Regions from separate parts of the Homo sapiens genome. Here all the other regions are linked to region 2. The links come from fine-mapping of genetic effects on gene expression. A gene starts in region 2. Each other region holds a variant in brackets. All regions are shown on one strand. Distances are from middle to middle. Region 1 overlaps STIM2 (stromal interaction molecule 2). Region 2 holds the start of STIM2 (stromal interaction molecule 2). Region 3 has its middle 34 kb from the start of STIM2-AS1. Region 4 overlaps STIM2 (stromal interaction molecule 2).

Region 1 (2,500 bases), 75 kb before region 2:
ACGCTGGAACCCCATCTCTACAAAAAATATAAAAATTAGCCAGGCATGGTGGCTCATGACTGTATCCCAGCTACTTGGAAGGCTGAGGTGGGAGGATGCCTGGAGTCCAGGAGGTCAAGGCTGTGGTGAGTCATGTTCACGCCACTGAACTCCAGCCTGGGTGACAGAGCGACATGCTGTCTCAAACAAAAAAGGCAAAAGGCACTGGGTTGAATGTTTCGATGCTCCATACTATGAAATGATTTCAGAAGTTTTTGGTTCTTCATACACAGATCTCATACTACAGTCAGTTATTCTCAGTTTATAAGTAGGTTGCATTTAAGAGTATGTATCCACTAAGTGAAGCATATCTTTCCACAGAAACTATGTTATGGTGTTTAACTTCCTAGTTCACAAAATCCTATTTAATCTGTATATAACTGAACTATATACAACCAATGGTGTTTCTCAAATGGCCTATGACTAAGACAGCCTCAGCAAGAGGGAACCCCCAATAATAAATCAGAACTCAAGCATAGAGATTAGATAGTCTGGATGATAAGAAACAGTAGAATAAGAGAAAGCTGTTTTCTATTGTGGTTGCTTTGAGGGACAAGCAGATACATGACCACAAATGCTCTGGGAGGATCAGCTCTTATCAAATGTCATAAACAAAAAGATAACTCAACAGCAGTTGGTAAATGAACTGGAAAAGCAAGAGACAGAGAAGAAACTCCAGTAAATAGGTTACTATAATTGTCAGGACATAAGGACATAAGTACTAAACTAAATAAATGCTGGGACCAGGTAGAAGTTTCACAATTTAAGTAAGAAATATTCTAATATAAAATCATCAGATGTTTTCTTAAAATCTGTCTCAATAACTTGCACAATGATTCTTAACCATCTAGGTTACAGAACCATCTTACTTTAAAAACCAAAAGATCCTCCCCCACATAAAAAAGACAAATACAACCCTGCTTTATAGTAACTGAATGTCAATGACTTCCTATAAAACATACAAAGAAATTTTTAAGGTTGAACTTGGCAAAAGTAAAGTCACAAAATACAGGAGCAGAAAACAAGGTATCTTGCAAGAGCATCACAGTAGTATTTATATTTATAAATATTGTGCCTGAGATTAAAAGAACTGTAAAAATATAATGCAAAACTTTAAGATTTATCAAGGTACAAAGAGTAAGTCATGAACCATATTTTCAAAGACCTAATCATAAAAAAAGTAAGATTTGTAACTATACTGTCTACTCATAAAAGGTCAAGATAAAGAGCTTCTGGCTACTATCAGAGTCCTGAAAGTCTAGTGGTTCTCAAACTTCATCAGAATCACCCAGAGGATTTGTTAAAACGGATTGCTAGGTCCCATCCCCAAGCTGCTGATTCAGTAGGGTTGGGGTGGGGCTCAAGAATTTGCATTTCTAACAAGTTTT[C/T]ATGTTAAGTTAATACTGCTTGTCAAGGGAGCATCAATTTATTTACTCCTTAGAGCAATTTCTTGGAACTACACCAACTCCATTTTCATCTACTTCTTTCCCTCCTTTCTCACTCTGTAAGCTAAATGAGAAGTATTAGGGTGGCCCTAACCTTTTTCTATTTAATATCTTGCTTCTAAAAGATGTATAGAGTGCCTATCTCATTTTGAATAATTTAAACTATAGTTACATATACGTAAACAAAGAAGAGGTAACCAAAATGACAAACAAGTATGTAATGCTCAGCACGCTTTGGTGAGTTGCTGAAGACCAAAATACCTTACACATACCCTATAAGATGACTTCCACCTACATAAGAATCTTTCTTCCAGATTCCTAATCAATGGCGTCCAAAATCATTACTTCCTGGGTCTCTTCAGATCAACAGACATCCACAATCCAGATATAAATTAAATTTTAAAATAGAATTTGCAGCTAAAATATAAAGACATAGTGGCAAATTTATAGGAAAAGATATTTTAAAAAGTTTAATCATGTCTTCCCTTATCAAAATGATATCTACACTTTCTGCCTCACTCATTCTCTGCTTTTTTTCCCTAAACTAGTATAAATAAGTGAACTTTGTTCTTTTTTTTTTTTTTTTTTTTTTTGAGATGGAGTTTCGCTCTTATTGCCCAGGCTGTAGTTCAATGGCGCGATCTCGGCTCACTACAACCTCCACCTCCCGGGTTCAAGTGATTCTCCTGCCTCAGCCTCCTGAGTAGCTGGGATTGCAGGCATGTGCCAATATGCCCATCTAATTTTGTATTTTGTGTAGAGACAGGGTTTCTCCATGTTGGTCAGGCTGGTCTCAAACTCCTGACCTCAGGAGATTCACCCACCTCGGCCTCCCGAAGTGCTGGGACTGCAGGCATGAGCCACCGCGCCTAGCCTTGTTCTATTCTTATATTACCACTTCTTACAGGTATCACAAGTATCAGAACTAATTTTAATCATAAAATGCACAGTGGACATCATTAAAAGGTCAGCAACTAATGTGCTATATGATGAAGAAACCTGCAAACAGTGGCCAT
Region 2 (2,744 bases):
CACTAGGTATTATGGCTCTCAAAGAATCCCCTTTAGCAGGCTCCCCTGGGACGCTGTGCTCAAGCGGAGCTTTGAACCGGTGAGACTCGCTGCCAGCTGCCTTTGCAAAAGCAGCACCAGAGGTAGACTCAATACCGCAATGCTGCTGCTGACTTTTTCTAGCAGCCTCAAAAAAAAAAAAAAAAAAAAAATCAGCCCAGTCCCCTGCAGACCCTGCTGGCACTTCTGCAGCACGAAAGAGAAACCACCGCATTGCTCAGCTTGGAAGATCGGAGAGCCCGACTGAAGGGAGGGGAATCAGTGCCGTCGAGAGGCTCGGCGAGGGCGGGGTGTCGGGGTGAAAAGGAAAGACGTCCGGAGTGCAGGGGACCGCGACGAAGCAGCAGGCAGGGCTCCGCATCGCGCCCTGGCCGGAGCCGCGGAATAGCGGACGTCCGGCGGAGATGCTGACCTCTGCACGGGTTGGGGGTCCCATCGCTGCCGGCCGAGCCCCGCCCGCCGCCCCCCGGCCCCTCACCTGTCATGAGCGCCGGGCTATCGCCGGCCGCCGCGGCGGGAGAGGAGGCGGCAGTTGCGGCAGAGCCAGTCGCCCGCCGCCCGCGGAGGTGCCGGGGCACAAGCTCGCATCCGTCCGCCGCTCCGGCTACCAGCAGCCCGAGCACCAGCAACGCAGCCCAGCGCCGCCGCCGCAGCAGCCAGCCCCACGCTGGGCCAGGAGTCGAGGCGGGATGAAGGCGCCGAGGAGAAGCCGGGTGAAAGCGCAGCGGCGCCCCGGCCGCCTGCAGCTCGCCGGCTCCGCGAGGCGCCACCACCGCCGCCGGCGACTCCTCCGGCCGCCCCCGCCGCCTCAGACACGGGCTCCCGCCGGGCGCCAGCCTGGTCCCATCGGCACCGGCGGCCTCCGGAGCTCTGATCCCGGCTGCGTTCATTGGTTCCGGTTATTTAAAAAAAAAAAAAAAAAAGGTGGGGGGTAGAAAGGTACGGCGTCTTCAGGCGGTGCACGACACCCGCGCTGCTGCTGCGGCGAGACCGGGATCCGCTGCTCTGGCGCCGCCAAACACCAACCCCAGCTCCCGCGCCGCCGCCGCCGCGGCGCATCCCCCCGCCCCCTCCGGCCCGCGCTGGTCGTAGTACCACGCTCCGCCGGGACGCCTCCCTCCCCTCGCACATTCGCTCGCATACCAATCCCCCGCCTCCCTCAGGCTCTCCACGGCGCAGGCGCGGCGCTGCTGTACTGCGCGTGCGCGGCATCCCAGCCCCGCCCCGGAGGCGTTCCTAGACGGACGGTAGTACCGTGGGGCGGCTGATAACGCTTTAGCGAGCCGCGAAGATAGGAGGCGGGGAAGAAGGGGGACGTGTACCTCTCCCTCATTCACGGTACCACCGCGAGGGGGAGTGGGGGGCTACAAGGGGACGGAGAGAAGAGTCCAGACGTCCCACATCCTGAGGGCGAGTTTCAGCCTCGTAGAGGGCAGCGAAAGTAATTGCATGGATCAGGAAAATCTTGCAATCGGAAAACAGCAGCGTCCCCGTAATTTCAATATAGGTGGGGCTTACAAGTGGCTGGCTGTTTAGACGCGGTTAGCATAGCTTAGCGTTTTATTTACTTGCCAAACATTTCACAAAGCGCGTGCTATGTGTGAGTGTACCAGGCATTGCTCTAACCGTTTTACACATTTACATGCTATAACTCCAAAATTATCGTTACCCCCTTTTACGAATGAAGAGACTAAGACCTAGAAATGTGAAGTAAGTTGTCCCCAATATCCCACAGCTAATTCATGGGAAATGAGCGAGATTTAGCAGCCACTGAAAAGGCCTATTTAAGAGAATTTACTTTAGCCTCTGACTCTCCTAGGTACATTTACCTGAACTCATCACCTTCCCACCCCCATCCCATCGACTCTGTGCTGTATCCTGAACCGGCTGACAGAACAATGATGTAGACTTGACTTGTTTTCGCCAACCTGGAATGAAGCAAAGCTCTTGTGCACCCAAGATCTGCTCTCTGTTGTAAATCCTGTTCAGACCTGGTCTAATTGGTTTGAATAAATAAAGAACCGGAATCTTTCTCATCCAAACTAGTTGCCAGCATATTTTTAAGGCCACCTCCCTTCAAATTTAAAAGGAAGTGTTGAATGTACTGTCACTATAAATTAAAAGCCCTGGAAATTCACACGCAAGGAGGCATTCTTTCTCCCAGGGGCACAAAATTGTTTAAAATTTGCAGATAGGGTTATTAAACACGAAGATCCTTTTGCTATTGGGTTTTGTTGGTTTCATTCTGCTTATTGGTTTGTTTGCTTGCTTTCTCAAGCCAAGAAGATACTCAAATTACATTCTCCTAAAGTATTTCTTAGGTAGCCTGGCCAAGATAACCACAAATATCGTTTATTGTGGAAGGGCAGATGCACACTTTAGAAAAGAATCAAGGATGTCTTTGAGGCTAAGTCAATCTATCAACAGTTATTTCTCAGCAGACTTCTTGTGGGCATAGTGTTCAGGTGGCAATTCTTTATAGGGCAACCGGGAGATTATATTTCCCCTGCTGAAAGGCACAGCGATGAAGTCACACCAGAGTGCTGAGTGCCCACCAGAGAAGATAATTCTGCTAGGGGACCAGAACAATATAAATAACAAGCTTGTTCCTGCTCTCCAGGAGGCATTTCATTTATTAAATGTTTACTGAGTACCTAGTATGTGCCAGGCAGAGTACTGAGTGGTGAGGGTTAGGCAAGAGAGAC
Region 3 (2,764 bases), 34 kb after region 2:
AAGCATCTGCCAAACGAGATCTTAGAGGAACCATTTCAAAGCTATTTTAAGTATTTTCAGATATGGATTTGTCAGGTGGCCTACGTTAATCTCAAAGCCTAATAAAATAGCTGGGCACAGCGGCACACATGCCTGTATTCACACCTACCCAGGAAGCTGAGGCAGAAGGATTGCTTGAGCCCAGGAGTTCGAGGCTGCAGTGTGCATTATTGCACCTGTAAATAGGCACTGCATTCTAGCCTGAGTGTCATCGCAAGACCCTATCAAAAAAAAAAAAACAAAACAAAAAACAAAAAAAGAAAGCTCTAATAAATTGGTTCCATCCTCAAAAACATTTGCTTGAAGTTAGGGCTGAGTAGGTGAGTGCCAGCCTGATTTTGTTTTGTTTTGTTTTGAGACAGTCTTGCTCTCTCGCCCAGGCTGGAGTGCAGTAGTGCAATCTTGGCTCACTGCAACCTCTGCCTCCGAGATTCAAGCAATTCTCATGCCTCAGCCTCCTGCGTAGTTGGAACTGCAGGCGTCTGCCACCATGCCTGACTAATTTTTGTATTTTAGTAGAGACGAGGTTTCTCCATGTTGGCCAGGCTGGTCTTGAACTCCTGGCCTCAAGTGATCTGCCTCCCTTGGCCTCCCAAAATGATTGGATTGCAGGCGTGAGTCACTGTGCCTGCCAATGCCTGATGATTTTGACCCAAAGGATAGATTTGGTGATGAAGAAGAGAGATTCCTGAAACAGTAATACCTTTAAAGTTGGCTGTTTTAATTAAGTGAAGATGAAAATAAAGTGTTTTCCATCTTTATAAGCATTTGCCACTTACTGTGATTGAATTTGTGTTAAGGAGCCAGGAAAGGCTATGGAAGAGCAGTCTCCATCAGTTCACCAGAAGTATCATGGCAAGGCCAAGCTATCATGGTTAAAAGTTAATCATTAGTTTCCTTTCTCCATGATACGATTCAATAAACACATTAACAGTTTATAAAAGAGGTAGTGAAACCTCCTGAGGAAAAAAATATTATGTAACCAGTTTAGGGGAGAGACTTGCCTCGCCTCATATCTCAGTAGGGGGTTGAACTGCACGGCTGGGAGGTTCTTTCCGGTTTCATAACAGTTATTATTTCTGGAAGGGTTTATCTTTTATTGCTAATAGCACTTCACTTTCCTCCATGCTCTGAATCTAC[G/A]TCACCACCCACACCCGGAACCATTATAAACATCCACCCGCCACCGGGGCAGTAACCCTCATGAAGTTAAAACAGTAGTCTTTCCTGCTCGCCAACAGTTATAGACCTTGAAATGCCATTAGGCCAAACTTTACTGGACTCTATTCATTGTTAGGGTTGTGGAATATTGATCTAAACTCAATCTAACAAAATACACGCGGACATCATCTATAACAATGATTTTCAAAGAGAGAATTTTGAAAGGTATATTGGAGAGAGATGAGAAGCATTTTATGTTTGTAACAGCTCTAATATCTTAATAAGAATGATCTCTTTGTTTAGAATTTAAAACTTAGTAATAATGACACTTATTTTTCCCCCCTCTAAATAATGTTCACCTACTATGAGCAGACAGTAAGGGCACAAATATAAATCAACTTTAAACTGTTTGAAATATCCTTCTATTCATGATTATTGCTGTCACTGAATATGTATCCAGCAGCTGGGCAGGAATTCCCTGATACTAGAGTTAAACAATGGGCAGGCAGAATGCGAAGTCCTATGTGCAGTGGGAATTAAATTGTTCTTTTATTACAAAAATATGATCTTTGAATTTTTTTTTCACTTTTTATTTTTGAGACAAGGTCTCTTTCTGTCACCAAGGCTGGAGTGCAATGGCACGATCTCAGCTCACTGCAACTTCTGCCTCCTGGGTTCAAGCAATTCTCCTGTCTCAGCCTCCTGTGTAGCTGGGATTACAGGTGCATGCCACCAAGCCTGGCTAATTTTTGTATTTTTAGTAGAGATGGGGTTTCGCCATGTTGCCCAGGTTGGTCTTGAACTCCTGACCTCAAATGATTCGCCCGCCTAAGCCTCCCAAACTGCTGGGATTACAGGCGTGAGCCACCATGCCCGGCCAGCTTAGCTATTTTCATATGCCATTACTAATAGTTAATGTTTATTGCAGGCTTAACTTGGACCAGGCCCTGTTTCAATGGCCTTATTCATCCTACTGATATTATAACAATTCTATGAAGGAGATACTATTAACCCTGTTTTACAGTTGAGAAAAATGAGGCACAGAGATTTTTAAGTAATTTTTCTGATGTCACACAACTAAGTGGTAGGGCTGGGAGTTGCACCCAAAAGTCTGGCTCCAAACCCCTTTTACTTAACTAGTATAACCACACAATAGCACCTCTCAGATCATGCTACTTAACTAATTTGTGGCAGGTCACTGATAGAGAAAATTGGCAGCAAATCTTCAAAACAGTGAACAATGAGTGTTTCCAACCAAACTACATTCACTATGGCCTGGATTTTTTTCTTAATGTTGAAAAATTAAAGAAAATGTCATTGAAAAAATAAAAATTACTGACTAATGAGGCATGCCCTTATATACCTAGTTACTCCTGAAAGAAAAGTTTAAAAATCCTAAATCAGCCAGGCGTGGTGGCTCATGCCTGTAATCCCAGCACTTTGGGAGGCCAAGGCAGGCGGATCATGAGGTCAAGAGATTGAGACCATCCTGGCCAACTTGGTGAAACCCCATCTCTACTAAAGATACAAAAATTAGCTGGGCGTGGTGGTGTGCACCTGTAGTCCC
Region 4 (2,500 bases), 27 kb before region 2:
GAATGAACAGGCAAAGAAGACCCAGGGTTAGTGTACTGACCAGGGTTGCTGGTTACTAAGAAGAAATTCAACTGCTACCATACAATGGAGGTATGAAAGACTAAGTCCAGAATACGAGAGATCTTGTAATTACTTTCACGCTCTGTGATTAAAAGACTAAGTCCGGAATACAAGAGATCTTGTAATTACTGCCATGCTCTGTGATTAAAGTCAATGGAAAACTACAATAACCCAATTTAAGGACTACTTAAATTGGGTATGCCCAGACCCTTCAGGAACAAAGTTTTGGATCACCCCAACAGGCAAAGAACCACAAAGAGCTAAGGTGCTTGCTAAGGGAAAGGGAAAAATGGAATGGATAGTGCAAGAAGGTAATCATAAACAAAAACCAGCTACGACCATGTGACCAGCCACAGAAAACTGTAACTGTTATGTCTTATTTTGTAACGAATGTATTCAAATATTTAGCAAATATCTTTGTTTTCTTGCTCTTTAATCCCTTTATCATCTGACATAAGATATATTAATAATAGCTAACTTTACATCATGATATTTAAGTTATAGCTTATTAGGGAGAATGAACATTACCCAGGGACTCCGCATCCTCTTCTGGGGAAAGGGTTGGCATGTTTTCAGTTGTTTGAAGGATATTCATATTATGTTAGGCAGAAGTATGACTTTGTTATTGCGTTCATTTGGAGATTAAGTATCATTTAAGAAGATGTGTATGGGCGCCAAGTTGACAAGGATGGACTATGACAGTTTTATGTATCAACTTGTCTAAACTATAGTATCCAGTTATTCAATCAAACACTAACCTGGGTGCTACTGTGATGGTATTTTGTAAACACAGTTAACATCTACAATCAGTTGACTTTAAGCAAAGGAAATTATTCTTGGAAATGTGGGTGGGCCTGATCCAATCAGCAGGAAAGCCTTTTCTGAGAAAGAAATATTCTGCCCCACGACTGCAGCATCATCGCCTGCCCAAGAGTTTCCAATCTGCCAGCCTATCCTATGGATTTTGGATTTGGATTTGGATCTTTTCAATTACCTCAGCCAATTCCTTGAAATAAGTCTCTATGTTTTACCTATGTCTATCTATGTAGATATGTAGATACATGTATAAAACAATTAATTATTTTAAGTTACATCTTTGAGTATTTTAAGTGCAACTAAATAATTGGTAATATAATTACAGATATGCACTATATAAAATTATATTATTAATTTGTAATAATGAACATATACATTCATTCCTTCTGGTTCTATTTCTGTACAGAACCCTAATACAGGGTCTTTTAAAACATTAAGAGAAAAAATAGCCACTCTTTGCTTCAAAGGATACATCTAGAACCCAAAGAAAGTACTGAAAGATTTTAGTTTAATGCAACAAAGAACTTCTCACAAACCAGAACTGCCTACTAATGGAAAAGTTGTTCAGGAGCAATAAGTTCCCAACCACCCAAAGTATCTGAGGAGCTAATGAATGACAGTCTATAAGGGATACACC[G/A]GAGAAGTTCCTGTAATTAGCAGACAGTTTGAGCTTTAGGCTTTGTCCACTTCCTTGAGTTCAATCAAAGTCTGTAATTCTGTAACAGCACGGTGTGATCTTAGATTATTAGCAAGATACATCTTAACCCAAGTAGAAAATGAAAGCAACATCAAACAAAACAGTAAAGAAAAAAAGCTCAAATAAATTCTAAGTTTTAAAGGGATCACGGACAAGGCAAGAGGCAAAAAAAAAAAAAAAAAAAAAAAAGTTTAATTATTTGGTTTGGTGCTTATTGTATCTTGTAACATTCAGCAGTTGAACACTACGGGTTGTTCCAATTTCCTAGCTCTTTAAATTATATCCTATAAAGGCATAAGCTTTTATGTCTTTACTTCACAATAAAGTTCATATAACAATGAACTTGATTTTCAGGACAACAGAACAGAAGGGCTTTCACTGTATTTAGCATCCACATATAGCTCCACCTATACCACCTATTACCACCTCCATAGCTAACAAGGGAGCTCTAGCACTTTCTCTCCCCGGACAAAAGCCTACTAATTGGTCTCCCTGCTCTAAGACTAGACCTTCTAGAGTGTCATTTCAGTGAAAGAGCTGAAGTGATCATTTCCAAACATAAATCAAATCATGTCACACTTCTCAAAAACCCTGCAGTAGCTCCCCATCTCAGAGTACATGACATACAATGACAATGTCCTCACATCTTGTAGATGATGTCTACAAGACTGTACATTCTAGCCCAGACAACCTCTCTGATCTATCTATTACTCTCTCCATTGCTTACTCTACACCAGCCCTGTGGTCTCCTGGAAGTTTCTCCAAAAATCCAACAATGGTATCCATCAGGGCCCATGCACATGCCATTCTCTCCACCTGAAGGGTCTCATCCCTCTGTCTCTCCCTTCTCTCTTGTCAAATGTCAACTATGAAGATTTCCCTGACCACCTTAAATAACAGCAAACACACATATACTTTCCCTAACAT

Evidence for each region.
Region 1: its variant is fine-mapped to the expression of STIM2 in whole blood (TOPMed, PIP 0.98).
Region 3: its variant is fine-mapped to the expression of STIM2 in lung (TOPMed, PIP above 0.99). The same link has a PIP of 0.9 or more in visceral fat.
Region 4: its variant is fine-mapped to the expression of STIM2 in whole blood (TOPMed, PIP 0.92).

Annotation. Positions count from the first base shown.
Region 1 is chr4:26,934,491-26,936,990 of GRCh38, reverse strand. The region is part of intron 2 of STIM2 (stromal interaction molecule 2); the gene reads right to left. Among named protein-coding and RNA genes, the nearest start is that of STIM2, 75 kb to the right of the region's middle. The variant C/T (reference allele first, on the strand shown) is at 1,428.
Region 2 is chr4:26,859,143-26,861,886 of GRCh38, reverse strand. STIM2 (stromal interaction molecule 2) reads right to left here and starts at 1,046. Exons shown (of 12, transcript NM_020860.4): 1 at 518-1,046. The coding sequence starts at 668. STIM2-AS1 (STIM2 antisense RNA 1) reads left to right here and starts at 1,288. Exons shown (of 2, transcript NR_134674.1): 1 at 1,288-1,377; 2 at 1,859-2,263. RefSeq lists silencers at 350-919, 930-1,299 and an enhancer at 1,390-1,489.
Region 3 is chr4:26,825,232-26,827,995 of GRCh38, reverse strand. It overlaps a transcript of TBC1D19 not described here. Among named protein-coding and RNA genes, the nearest start is that of STIM2-AS1, 34 kb to the left of the region's middle. The variant G/A (reference allele first, on the strand shown) is at 1,180.
Region 4 is chr4:26,886,446-26,888,945 of GRCh38, reverse strand. The region is part of intron 1 of STIM2 (stromal interaction molecule 2); the gene reads right to left. Among named protein-coding and RNA genes, the nearest start is that of STIM2, 27 kb to the right of the region's middle. The variant G/A (reference allele first, on the strand shown) is at 1,514.